Linked DNA regions of Homo sapiens. The protein of the gene in region 1 purifies or fractionates together with the protein of each later gene. This does not show direct contact. Each region holds a gene or a part of one and is shown in the gene's direction. Other genes may lie near its edges. The genes, in order: CEP83, POTEC and POTEB2.

Region 1 (4,234 bases):
TTCCTACTGACCAATAATTTGTCATGTATAGTTTACTGGCTACCACAGAGATTTCTGGAGTTGTCTGGCTCCAGCGTTTAAAAGTAATGGTTTTGGGCAACTCTGTGAAATGGAGATAACAATTGCACCTACCTTACAGAAATGTTAGAGTTAAATAAGATAACCTGAAAAAGTACTCCAGTACTTGCCACACAAATGCTCAGCAAATGTGAGCTACTGTTATTATACTAAACACGCACACATACATGAGAATTTCTGGATTCTCTATTCTATCTCCCATGTCTCATCTATGTAATCCATCCAGCAACATTCCATTACCAACTCGCTGTCCTTTTTTTCCCTCCTCTTAAGAGACACGGTCCTTTCTAATGGCCCGTTTTCCCTCATTTCAACAACAACAAAATCACCTCTCAGTTGTCCAATAATAACTACAGCCTGAAAATCATAATCTTGGGGGTAAAAATAAGCTGTACTTCACAAAGCAGTGAGAATCAAAGCCCAACCAAGGCACTGAACAAACGCTGGGGATGGGAAGGTGTCTGTTTCTTCCAACACGTATTTTGAAAGGCTGACCGCCTACTTTGTTTCAGACTTTGGATGATCATGGAAGTTCTCAAAAGCTAGCAACTCCTCTTCCAACTATTGTTTACAGCCTTAAGACAAGTAGTTCCCCATGTGACCCCAGGTGGGCCCTGAACTTGGGATAACCAGGACAGGAGACTTGGAGCAGGAGGTGCGGGGGCGAGGAGGGCTCTCTCCCGGGCGATTGGTCCTAACCCGAGGTTCCCTCGTGGCAAGCTGAGCCGACTCCCCACTCGTGGGCTGATGCCCGAGGCAGACGCGGCAGGCAGGCGGCTTCGGGAGCGCATATCTGCACCCATGGGGACGATGGCAGGCTGGCGAAGGGAGAGAGGTGGCGGCAGGACTACCATTTGAGGCTCTCAAATGGTGTGGGGAAGAGGGAAGGAGAGGCGCGAAAAGGAGGAAAACCCCTGGAGACGCTGTGTCGGGCGGAGGCTAGGGAGACCGGCTTCGCGCTCCAACGACGCGCATCACTCAGACTCCAAGGCAAGTGCCCGGGGCTAGATTTTCCGTCCCCTGGGGCTCTGGGGATCTCTGAGTCCATCCCAGGGCCCTCCAGGAACGCCTTCGGGAGCGCAGCCCGGCCCCGCCGCTGCCGCTGTCACCCGTGGCCGCTCCCGCCTCGGTTCGTTTGTCTCCTCCCTCTAACGGCTCCGGCAGCAACCGGCGTCGGTGGCGTGGGTGACGTCGGCGTGGGGGGTGGGACTTCCTGCTTCGCGTGCCGCTGGGCCAAGGGACAGAGCCCGCTCCTCCAGGCTGGTGGGGCGGTGCGATGAGGCGGCTTCTGGGCCATACGTCAGCACGTGGGGTGGCGCCGCACCCCTGAGGATCCCGGTCCACGCGGAGGAGTGGGGCTTTTCACCGCCGCCGCCGCCGCCCTCGGACCTCTCCCGGGATACTTCACATTTCCCTAGGGACGGGAGCCCGAGGGGTCCGTTCGGCCCTCTTCCTCTCGCTGGGCCGACACCCCGCTGTAGGACCGTAACCCTTAGTCCCAATGCCTCCGTAAGCGGAGTTGAGTGGGTGCCTGTGGTTGGAGCTGTGGAGGTGTCCCCGGTGGCGAGCGCGGCCAGAACTGCGGTCACTTAAGTTTTCCGTGTGCGGGTTGCAAGGAGCGTGCGTGCGTCTGGTATGTAACCTCTCTTTCTGGGGACGGTGTCTTGTTTGTATTTTGGAATACTCATTTTGTCCCTCCACAAACTGCCCTTGAATCCTTTTTTTATTTTCCTGTTAAAGTAGTGGAAGCTCGTGCTAGAAAAGTAGGCAGAGAGACGCACGTGAAACTCTTCATGGAGCTTTTGGATGCACTCTGGCTTGGTGGTTGTGTAGCCAGTTTGGTAATTGGCCAGACGTTTAAGTACCTCCAGCTTAATTTACGATGAAAAAGCTATGCTACCATTTTCCTTGGCTTTGAAGACAATTTGAATGAACAGTGATGTCGACTGTCATTACTGAGATAAACACCTAAAATATGTTAGCATATGCTGGGTTTAAATACTTTGGTTAATCCTCAGTGTCCAACTTTTGACCATAATCAATGGGCATTTTGCTCTTAAGAATATCCACTGCTAAGTATTTGTAAAGCCTTTAGTTAGCTGAAATGAGGAAGCTCTTTCAAATCTTACAGATCTCTAGGATAAGGAAAGACTTGTCTGAATTTCGTGTATATGATATATACTTCATAATCTGTTCAGACTTTAAGCAGCTCTAAAACAGAGTGGGTTGTTAAAGCAGTGCTTCTGTTACCAAGCAACATGTCTGTAAACAAGTCTGACATTTAACTAAAACACAATTAAAGGTATCTATCCTACAGTTACCTGGATTTAGAATTTTCCATATTTATGAATTTAGCCTGTAAGTGGTTAGAATTAATACTCACCTTTTGTATTGAGGTTTGATTTCAAACTCAGTTTGTTCAGAATTGTTAGAATGCTTTATTTATTTATTTATGACTGAGTCTCACTCTGTCGCCCAGGCTGGAGTGCAGTAGCGCGATCTCGGCTCACTGCAACCTCCGCCTCCTGGGTTCAAGCGATTCTCCTGCCTCAGCCTCCCGAGTAGCTGGGATTACAGGTGCGTGCCACCATGCCCGGCTAATTTTTTTATTTTAGTAGAGATGGGGTTTCACCATGTTGGCCAGGCTGGTCTCAAACTCCCGACCTCAGGTGATCCGCCCACCTCGGCCTCCCAAAGTGCTGGGATTACAGGTGTGAGCCACCGCACCAGGCCAGAATGCTTTAAATTATAAGTGTCACACAGGACTCTCCTGAGAGTTGCAAATGGTTTTGAGTTGTCCTTTGGTTATTTAGGACAGAGTATGCTGGGTATTCCCCTTACTTTGAGTGTTTTCTTTCCAGATCAGATGAAGTGCGCGGACTGTATTTAGAACATTCTCAAATAATAGTGAAATACAATTTAGAATTCCATGCAGCACTGGGAGAATGAAACACTGATTATTCACAGGTAGTTTTTTTTTTTTTCTTTTTTTGAGACAGAGTTTCATTCTTGTCGCTCAGGCTGGAGTGCAGTGGTGGGATCTCAGCTCACTGCAACTTCCGCCTCCCAGTTTCAAGTGATTCTCTCCTCTCAGCCTCCCGAGTAGCTGGGGTTACAGGTGCATGCCACCATGCCCTGCTAATTTTTGTATTTTTAGTAGAGATGGGGTTTCACCATATTGCCCAGGCTGGTCACGAACTCCTGACTTCAGGCGATCTGCCCACCTTGACCTCCCAAAGTGCTGGGATTACAGGTGTGAGCCAGCGTGCCTGGCCTATTCACAGGTAGTTTTTAATCCTTGGTTTACCAGTCACCTCACTGTCTCCTCTTATTGAACCCTTAATGATAAAATTTTTATGGCAAGTTGTTAGTTTTTAGAGCACTTTTTGAATGATCTTTTCAATCAATAACCTTTCAAGTAAGCAAGTATGTGAGAAAATTTGAGACATGATGAGACTAAATGACTTCTTTGAAATCTATTAATAATGGGAATTGGAACTTGAAGTTTAATGTTCTTTATGTCAGATACCCTTATGTATTGCTAAAATCCATGGACTTAATTTTAGTTCTCTCCTCCTTTTTTCTATATGCTGATGTTGAAGTAATGAAATATTCAAAAGTTGGGCAAGATGGAGGAGACAAATCAAGAATGACTCGTATAATCCTTAGTAATCAGAAATCAGCATTATGTCATGGGATGTTCTAATTCAAGAAGCTTAGAGTGAAATCTTAACAGAAAGATTAGTGAATTTTAGTGAATTGTCAGAATTTCCCCACCCCCAGGTACTGTCTCTTTGCCTAAAAGTAGATGAGCTTGCTTTTAATTTTGTCATACATATTAGGTTCCATAAGTAAATTGCCCACATTGTTTAACCTATGTGCTTTTAGGGAATGTGTGTAAATCTGTGTAAAAAACTTCCTTTTAACCCAAGTTCATGTTTCTTGACTTAAGGTGAATTATTTGAAATCCTCTCACCTTGCCTTTTCAAGTGTATGTTCTTTATGGAAAAGGTGTCTCTGCCCAGATTGGTTTCTTCACTATCCCCTAAACCTGCTCTGTACTTTATCCTTTCCATATTAGTCTGCATATCTTTCTATCCCCCGTGACCTGATCTTATTCCCTTCTTTCTTAAAATCTAAATTGTACCTTTTCTAT
Region 2 (4,375 bases), on another chromosome or scaffold:
ATCAAAATAGTACAAAAAAGTAAACTATAGCCCGGTAATTCTCTTGAACATGGATACACCAATTCTTAACAACATTAGCAGCAGAACTCAGCGATGTACACAAAGAATTACACATCATGTCCCAGTGACGTTTACTCCAGTGACTGCACACCTAGACATTCATCCCACTGAAATAAAAACTTTTTTTTTGCACTTGTAATTGGCTTCCCCTCTGCTTTTGTTGGCAAGAGCAGGTCGGTGTCCCAGGCTTAGAATCCATTTTTCTCTCTTTCTCTCCGTCTCTCTCTCTCTCTCTCTTTTTTTGACAGAGCCTTGCTTTGTCGCCCAGGTTGCAGTGATGCGATCTCGGCTCACTGCAAGCTCGGCCTCCCGGGTTCACGCCATTCTCCTGCCTCCCGAGTAGCTGGGACTACAGGCGCCCACCACCATGCCCGCTAGTATTTTGTATTTTTAGTAGAGATGAGGTTTCACCGTGTTAGCCAGGATGGTCTTTATCTCCTGACCTTATGATCCGCCCGCCTCAGCCTCCCAAAGTGCTGGGATTACAGGCGTGAGCCACAGTGCCCGGCCAGAATGCATTTTTCCTCCCACACCAAAGCACCTGCAGTATGGGTGAAGCAGCCTGGAGCCTGGCTACATAAGCCTGCACAGCAGGAGGGTCCCAGCAGGAGGGTCGAGGTGCCACTGCCTGGGTCCAGCTCACAGGCTGCCAGGGAGGCTCCGATCTGGCTCCCTGGTGCTGGCAGTGTCCTGTTCCCAGGATCTGCACGTGGGGGTGCCTTCCTGCATCTCCCCATCAGTGGTAGGTGCTCCTCCCAGCTCCCTCTTGCAGGCCTGGAGACAGCGGCCTGCACCTCAACCCTACTGCATGCCAGTGAAGCGAAGCACCCCGGGCCAGAAGCCCCACAGCTGTTGGCCCTGGTTTGGACACCAGGCAGGGGGCACCACAGCAGGAGCTAGCAGCCCAGCCCCGATTCTGTGGCCCCGAGTGCCCCGTTGCTGATGACCCTGTGTTCTGGGTGCGGACCAAGGAGGAGCAGGTGTGGAAGGCGCCTCAGGCAGGCCCTGGGCTCCGTGGGCGTCTTGTGCTCGGAGATTTTGAGGCCATTTGCATCCAGCTCCGCCAACCAGAGCTCTAAGCTGCAGCGGCGGCCACCCGCAACAGCACCACCACTAGTGTCTTGGGGGCTTTCTTCAGAGGAGGCTGTCAGCATCTTCGAGTTCCAGGCGCTCTAGCCCCAGTCCTGCTTCAAGAGGCTTTTTCCCACCACAGGCTTCTCCTCAGTGGCCCGAAAGCTGGGCCAACTCCCATGAACTTTGCCAGTAACGCAAGGCTGTCACTGACATTTGTGGCGCCAAGACTTGCGCACCCGGATTGCACACATCGGCCACTTCCTGCACCACGTGCAATGACGCGCGCACGCCTCACGCGCACGCCGCGTAACGTCTGAGGCGCGCACGCCTCACGCGCGCCCCGCACGCGCGCCCCGCACGCGCATAACGGCTTGGCTTACCTGTAACGGGTACGCTTCGCTTTGCGTTCCTCGCTTGGCCTTGCGTTCCTAGCTTGGCTTGGCGTTAGTCGCTTTGCCTGGTGTTTCTTGCTTGGATTGGCGTTTCCTCCCTCGCATTCCTTTGCTGGGCTTGACTTTTTCTCTGCTGGGTTTGGCATTCCCTTGACTGGGCTGGGTGTTTCCTTGGGAGGGGGGGCTTGGCCTTTCCTGGGGTGGGCGTTGGGTCCCCCTGGTGGGCGTGGGCTTTCCCCGGGTGGGTGTGGGTTTTCCCTGGGTGGGGTGGACTGGGCTCCCTTGCTGGGGTTGGCAAGTTTTGGCTGGGATTGACCTTTCTCTTCAAACAGATTGGAAACCCAGGGTTTCCTGCTAGTTGGTGAAACTGGTTGGTAGACGCGATCTGTTCGCTACTACCGGCCTCCCCGGGCTGTTAAAAGCAGATGGTGACTGAGGTTTGTTCAATGCCCGCTGCCTCTGCTGTGAAGAAGCCATTCGATCTCAGGAGCAAGATGGGCAAGTGGTTTCACCACCGCTTCCCCTGCTGCAAGGGGAGCGGCAAGAGCAACATGGGCACTTCTGGAGACCACGACGACTCCTTTATGAAGATGCTCAGGAGCAAGATGGGCAAGTGTTGCCACCACTGCTTCCCCTGCTGCAGGGGGAGCGGCACGAGCAACGTGGGCACTTCTGGAGACCATGACAACTCCTTTATGAAGACGCTCAGGAGCAAGATGGGCAAGTGGTGCTGTCACTGCTTCCCCTGCTGCAGGGGGAGCGGCAAGAGCAACGTGGGCGCTTGGGGAGACTACGACGACAGCGCCTTCATGGAGCCGAGGTACCACGTCCGTCGAGAAGATCTGGACAAGCTCCACAGAGCTGCCTGGTGGGGTAAGGTCCCCAGAAAGGATCTCATCGTCATGCTCAGGGACACGGACATGAACAAGAGGGACAAGCAAAAGAGGTAACTGGGCCTGGGATGGGAGGAGGCGGGACATGGGGGGATGATGGGGACATACCCTCCTGGCGCAGGGAGGGAGGAGCCAGGCTTTCTCTTCCTCCGCAGGCCCCACACCACCCTGGGTGTGGAAACCTCAGAGAGGTCAGGGCCCAGGTCCCTTTATAAACAGCAACACAAAAAATGTTAGCTGATTTTCAATCCAATTATAATTTCCCTTATAGAACACTAATAGACGGTTTTAAAGTGATTTAACTCGCAAAATTAAGTCAATGCAGCAGATTATTTTTAATGTACACATTTTAAAACAATGTTCTATACACTATAGAAAGGTGTATATTGAGAACTAAGCCCCATAATATATCAACTTCTGGGCTAAATATTTTTCAAATAAAATCCAATATGGATTTTATATCGATGTGCCCTATGTAAATACGTTCTTTACTGAGTAACCTTAAAAGGAAACTGAAATGGGAAGTATGGTTCATATCTTTGAATAGGAAGGTTCGTTTTTCTTAAGATGTGAGCTTTTTCTGTGTTTATCACTTTTACATAAGCCAAATAAAAATAGCAAAGTCTTAGTGTCTTTAAATTGCACATGATGTATTTTATCATTGTGATAAATTGATTTTTTGTAACAGAATGGAAAAAGACTTGCTTTTCCAGATATCAAAATGTGCATGTGTTATTTCCACAAATTGTTTACTAACAGCTGAAAAGACATAAATGAACAGAACAGAATAGGAAATCCAGAAATACCCAAATATATGTAAGAATTTAGCACTTGATAATGGTGATGTTTCATATTGGTAAAACAAGGTGAATTATTCATAAATTAAATGCATGCTGTTTGGAGAAAACTACCTAGATTTTTATGTCACAAAAATAAGTTCCTGGAGTATAGATTAAAAATTTTAAAGATACAAAAGGAGAAAAGTACCAGAAGAAAACACAAATGCCTATTTATATGTGCAAATATTTATTTATTTTTCTGAGACAGACTCTCACTCCATGGCCCAGGCTGGAGTGCAGTGGTGCAATATCAGCTCACTACAACCTCTGGTTCCTGGTTCAAGTAATTCTCTGCCTCAGCCTACCAAGTAGCTGGGATTACAGGCACCCACCACCATGCCTGGCTACTTTTTTGTGTTCTTAAGACGGGATTTCACCATCTTTGCCAGGCTGGTCTTGAACTCCTGTCCTTGTGATCCACCCACCTCAGCCTCCCAAAGTGCTGAGATTACAGTCATGAGCCTCTGAAACCGGCATATATATGCAGATATAATAAAATAAGCTCAATTTAAAATTGGGCAAGGTACTTTTTTGCATGTCTACCAGTGACCTGTGCACATAGGAAAACATAGCATTCCTGCTAAGAGAAGGAATTTAAGTTAGAAGAGGAATGAAAGACTATTTTCTGTTTAAGTTAGAAGAGGAATGAAAGGCCAGCCATGGTGGCTCATGCCTGTAATCCCAGCACTTTGGGAGGCCAAGGCAGGTGGATCACGAGGTCAGGAGTTTGATACTAGCTTGGCCAGCGTGGTGAAACCCGTTTCTACTAAAAATACAAAGAATTAGCTGGGCATGGTGGCATGCACCTGTAATCTTAGCTACTCAGGAGGCTGAGGCAGGAGAATTGCTTGAACCAGGGAGACGGAGGTTGCAGTGAGCTGAGATTGCACCACTACACTCCAGCCTGGGTGATGGAGTGAGACTCCATCTCAAAAAAATAAATAAATAAAAATAAATAAATAAATATAGAGGAATGAAATACTGTTTTCTGTCCACAAAGTTTGTGAGGGTGAAGAACAGTGGTACTTATATTACTTGCTGAAAGTTTAAGTTGCTGCGACTTTTCAAATAGACACTTTGATGGTAAGAACCACATTTTTAAAATGTGTATGCCTTT
Region 3 (4,009 bases), on another chromosome or scaffold:
TCTGCACGTGGGGGTGCCTTCCTGCATCTCCCCATCAGTGGTAGGTGCTCCTCCCAGCCCCCTCTTGCAGGCCTGGAGACAGCGGCCTGCACCTCAACCCTACTGCATGCCAGTGAAGCGAAGCACCCCGGGCCAGAAGCCCCACAGCTGTTGGCCCTGGTTTGGACACCAGGCAGGGGGCACCACAGCAGGAGCTAGCAGCCCAGCCCCGATTCTGTGGCCCCGAGTGCCCCGTTGCTGATGGCCCTGTGTTCTGGGTGCGGACCAAGGAGGAGCAGGTGTGGAAGGCGCCTCAGGCAGGCCCTGGGCTCCGTGGGCGTCTTGTGCTTGGAGATTTTGAGGCCATTTGCATCCAGCTCCGCCAACCAGAGCTCTAAGCTGCAGCGGCGGCCACCCGCAACAGCGCCACCACTAGTGTCTTGGGGGCTTTCTTCAGAGGAGGCTGTCAGCATCCTCGAGTTCCAGGCGCTCTAGCCCCAGTCCTGCTTCAAGAGGCTTTTTCCCACCACAGGCTTCTCTCCTCAGTGGCCAGAAAGCTGGGCCAACTCCCATGAACTTTGCCAGTAACGCAAGGCTGTCACTGACATTTGTGGCGCCAAGACTTGCGCACGCGGATTGCACACATCGGCCACTTCCTGGACCACGTGCAATGACACGCGCACGCCTCACGCACACGCCGCATAACGTCTGAGGCGCGCGCCCCGCACGCGCGCCCCGCACGCGCATAACGGCTTGGCTTACCTGTAACGGGTACGCTTCGCTTCGCGTTCCTCGCTTGGCCTTGCGTTCCTAGCTTGGCTTGGCTGTTAGTAGCTTTGCCTGGTGTTTCTTGCTTGGATTGGCGTTTCCTCCCTCGCATTCCTTTGCTGGACTTGACCTTTTCTCTGCTGGGTTTGGCATTCCCTTGACTGGGCTGGGTGTTTCCTTGGGAGGGGGGGCTTGGCCTTTCCTGGGGTGGGCGTGGGGTCCCCCTGGTGGGCGTGGGCTTTCCCCGGGTGGGTGTGGGTTTTCCCTGGGTGGGGTGGGCTGGGCTCCCTTGCTGGGGTTGGCAAGTTTTGGCTGGGATTGACCTTTCTCTTCAAACAGATTGGAAACCCAGGGTTTCCTGCTAGTTGGTGAAACTGGTTGGTAGACGCGATCTGTTCGCTACTACCGGCCTCCCCTGGCTGTTAAAAGCAGATGGTGGCTGAGGTTTGTTCAATGCCCGCTGCCTCTGCTGTGAAGAAGCCATTTGATCTCAGGAGCAAGATGGGCAAGTGGTGCCACCACCGCTTCCCCTGCTGCAGGGGGAGCGGCACGAGCAATGTGGGCACTTCTGGAGACCATGACGACTCCTTTATGAAGACACTCAGGAGCAAGATGGGCAAGTGGTGCTGTCACTGCTTCCCCTGCTGCAGGGGGAGCGGCAAGAGCAACGTGGGCACTTGGGGAGACTACGACGACAGCGCCTTCATGGAGCCGAGGTACCACGTCCGTCGAGAAGATCTGGACAAGCTCCACAGAGCTGCCTGGTGGGGTAAAGTCCCCAGAAAGGATCTCATCGTCATGCTCAGGGACACTGACATGAACAAGAGGGACAAGCAAAAGAGGTAACCGGGCCTGGGATGGGAGGAGGCGGGACATGGGGGGATGATGGGGACATACCCTCCTGGCGCAGGGAGGGAGGAGCCAGGCTTTCTCTTCCTCCGCAGGCCCCACACCACCCTGGGTGTGGAAACCTCAGAGATGTCAGGGCCCAGGTCCCTTTATAAACAGCAACACAAAAACAAAACTTTAGCTGATTTCCAATCCAATTATAATTTCCCTTATAGAACACTAATAGACGGTTTTAAAGTGATTTAACTCGCAAAATTAAGTCGATGCAGCAGATTATTTTTAATGTACACATTTTAAAACAATGTTCTATACACTATAGAAAGGTGTATATTGAGAACTAAGTCCCATAATATATCAACTTCTGGGCTAAATATTTTTCAAATAAAATCCAATATGGATTTTATATCGATGTGTACCCTATGTAAACACGTTCTTTACTGAGTAACCTTAAAAGGAAACTGAAATGGGAAGTATGGTTCATATCTTTGAATAGGAAGGTTCGTTTTTCTTAAGATGTGAGCTTTTTCTGTGTTTATCACTTTTACATAAGCCAAATAAAAATAGCAAAGTCTTAGTGTCTTTAAATTGCACATGATGTATTTTATCATTGTGATAAATTGATTTTTTGTAACAGAATGGAAAAAGACTTGCTTTTCCAGATATCAAAATGTGCGTGTGTTATTTCCACAAATTGTTTACTAACAGCTGAAAAGACATAAGTGAACAGAACAGAATAGGAAATCCAGAAATACCCAAATATATGTAAGAATTTAGCACTTGATAATGGTGATGTTTCATATTGGTAAAACAAGGTGAATTATTCATAAATTAAATGCATGCTGTTTGGAGAAAACTACCTAGATTTTTATGTCACAAAAATAAGTTCCTGGAGTATAGATTAAAAATTTTAAAGATACAAAAGGAGAAAAGTACCAGAAGAAAACACAAATGCCTATTTATATGTGCAAATATTTATTTATTTTTCTGAGACAGACTCTCACTCCATAGCCCAGGCTGGAGTGCAGTGGTGCAATATCAGCTCACTACAACCTCTGGTTCCTGGTTCAAGTAATTCTTTGCCTCAGCCTACCAAGTAGCTGGGATTACAGGCACCCACCACCATGCCTGGCTAATTTTTTGTGTTCTTAATCAAGACGGGATTTCACCATCTTTGCCAGGCTGGTCTTGAACTCCTGTCCTTGTGATCCACCCACCTCAGCCTCCCAAAGTGCTGAGATTACAGTCATGAGCCACTGAAACCGGCATATATATGCAGATATAATAAAATAAGCTCAATTTAAAATTGGGCAAGGTACTTTTTTGCATGTCTACCAGTGACCTGTGTACATAGGAAAACATAGCATTCCTGCTAAGAGAAGGAATTTAAGTTAGAAGAGGAATGAAAGACTATTTTCTGTTTAAGTTAGAAGAGGAATGAAAGGCCAGCCATGGTGGCTCATGCCTGTAATCCCAGCACTTTGGGAGGCCAAGGCAGGTGGATCACGAGGTCAGGAGTTTGATACTAGCCTGGCCAGCATGGTGAAACCCGTTTCTACTAAAAATACAAAGAATTAGCTGGGCATGGTGGCATGCACCTGTAATCCTAGCTACTCAGGAGGCTGAGGCAGGAGAATTGCTTGAACCAGGGAGACAGAGGTTGCAGTGAGCTGAGATTGCACCACTACACTCCAGCCTGGGTGATGGAGTGAGACTCCATCTCAAAAAAATAAATAAATAAAAATAAATAAATAAATATAAAGGAATGAAATACTGTTTTGTGTCCACAAAGTTTGTGAGGGTGAAGAACAGTGGTACTTATATACCTGCTGAAAGTTTAAGTTGCTGCGACTTTTCAAATAGACACTTTGATGGTAAGAACCACATTTTTAAAATGTGTATGCCTTTTACCCATCTGTTCCATTATACCGAAATATCTATATGAAACAGACACAGCTGTTTTTCTTAGTATTGCTTAAAATAGCCATGTATTGAGAAGAACTCATATAAAGATTTTATGAACAAATTTCAGTGCATCCATAGGATGGAATAATATGTAACCATTGAGGGTGTCAGTAGATACAGAGATATGTCGGCATGCAGAGATGTACTTTGCTGTATCAAGTGAGAAAAAATCAGTTTGTTATACATATACACAAATAGAATCTGCTCTTGTGTTAGCTGGAAATATGTGGAAAATATAATCAAACTTATTTCTGGGGATTTGTAAGTGAAGTTTTTCCCTTTCTCTTATCTGTGATTTCTGCAATGAACATCTGCAAAGTTTTAGTTAAGTTTCATTAGTAATGAAATAATCCTTGGGAAGAGAAGGAATATGCTACTTGCATAGATACAAATAATTTCTTACATTCTATTATTTATTTTTATACCTGTGGATGGCTATCTTCTGTGAACT

The links.
Region 2: the proteins of CEP83 (region 1) and POTEC purify together in Homo sapiens (affinity purification with mass spectrometry; 2 studies listed by BioGRID and IntAct, with this or other methods). This does not show direct contact.
Region 3: the proteins of CEP83 (region 1) and POTEB2 purify together in Homo sapiens (affinity purification with mass spectrometry, with the first as the bait; 2 studies listed by BioGRID). This does not show direct contact.

What each region holds. Positions count from the first base shown.
Region 1 is NC_000012.12:94,457,034-94,461,267, reverse strand, and holds the start of CEP83 (centrosomal protein of 83 kDa), read left to right. Parts: upstream 1-1,400; 5' UTR 1,401-1,711; intron 1,712-4,234. UniProt on the Homo sapiens protein: Component of the distal appendage region of the centriole involved in the initiation of primary cilium assembly.
Region 2 is NC_000018.10:14,540,723-14,545,097, reverse strand, and holds the start of POTEC (POTE ankyrin domain family member C), read left to right. Parts: upstream 1-1,497; 5' UTR 1,498-1,951; coding exon 1,952-2,472; intron 2,473-4,375.
Region 3 is NC_000015.10:20,863,452-20,867,460, reverse strand, and holds the start of POTEB2 (POTE ankyrin domain family member B2), read left to right. Parts: upstream 1-1,146; 5' UTR 1,147-1,179; coding exon 1,180-1,589; intron 1,590-4,009.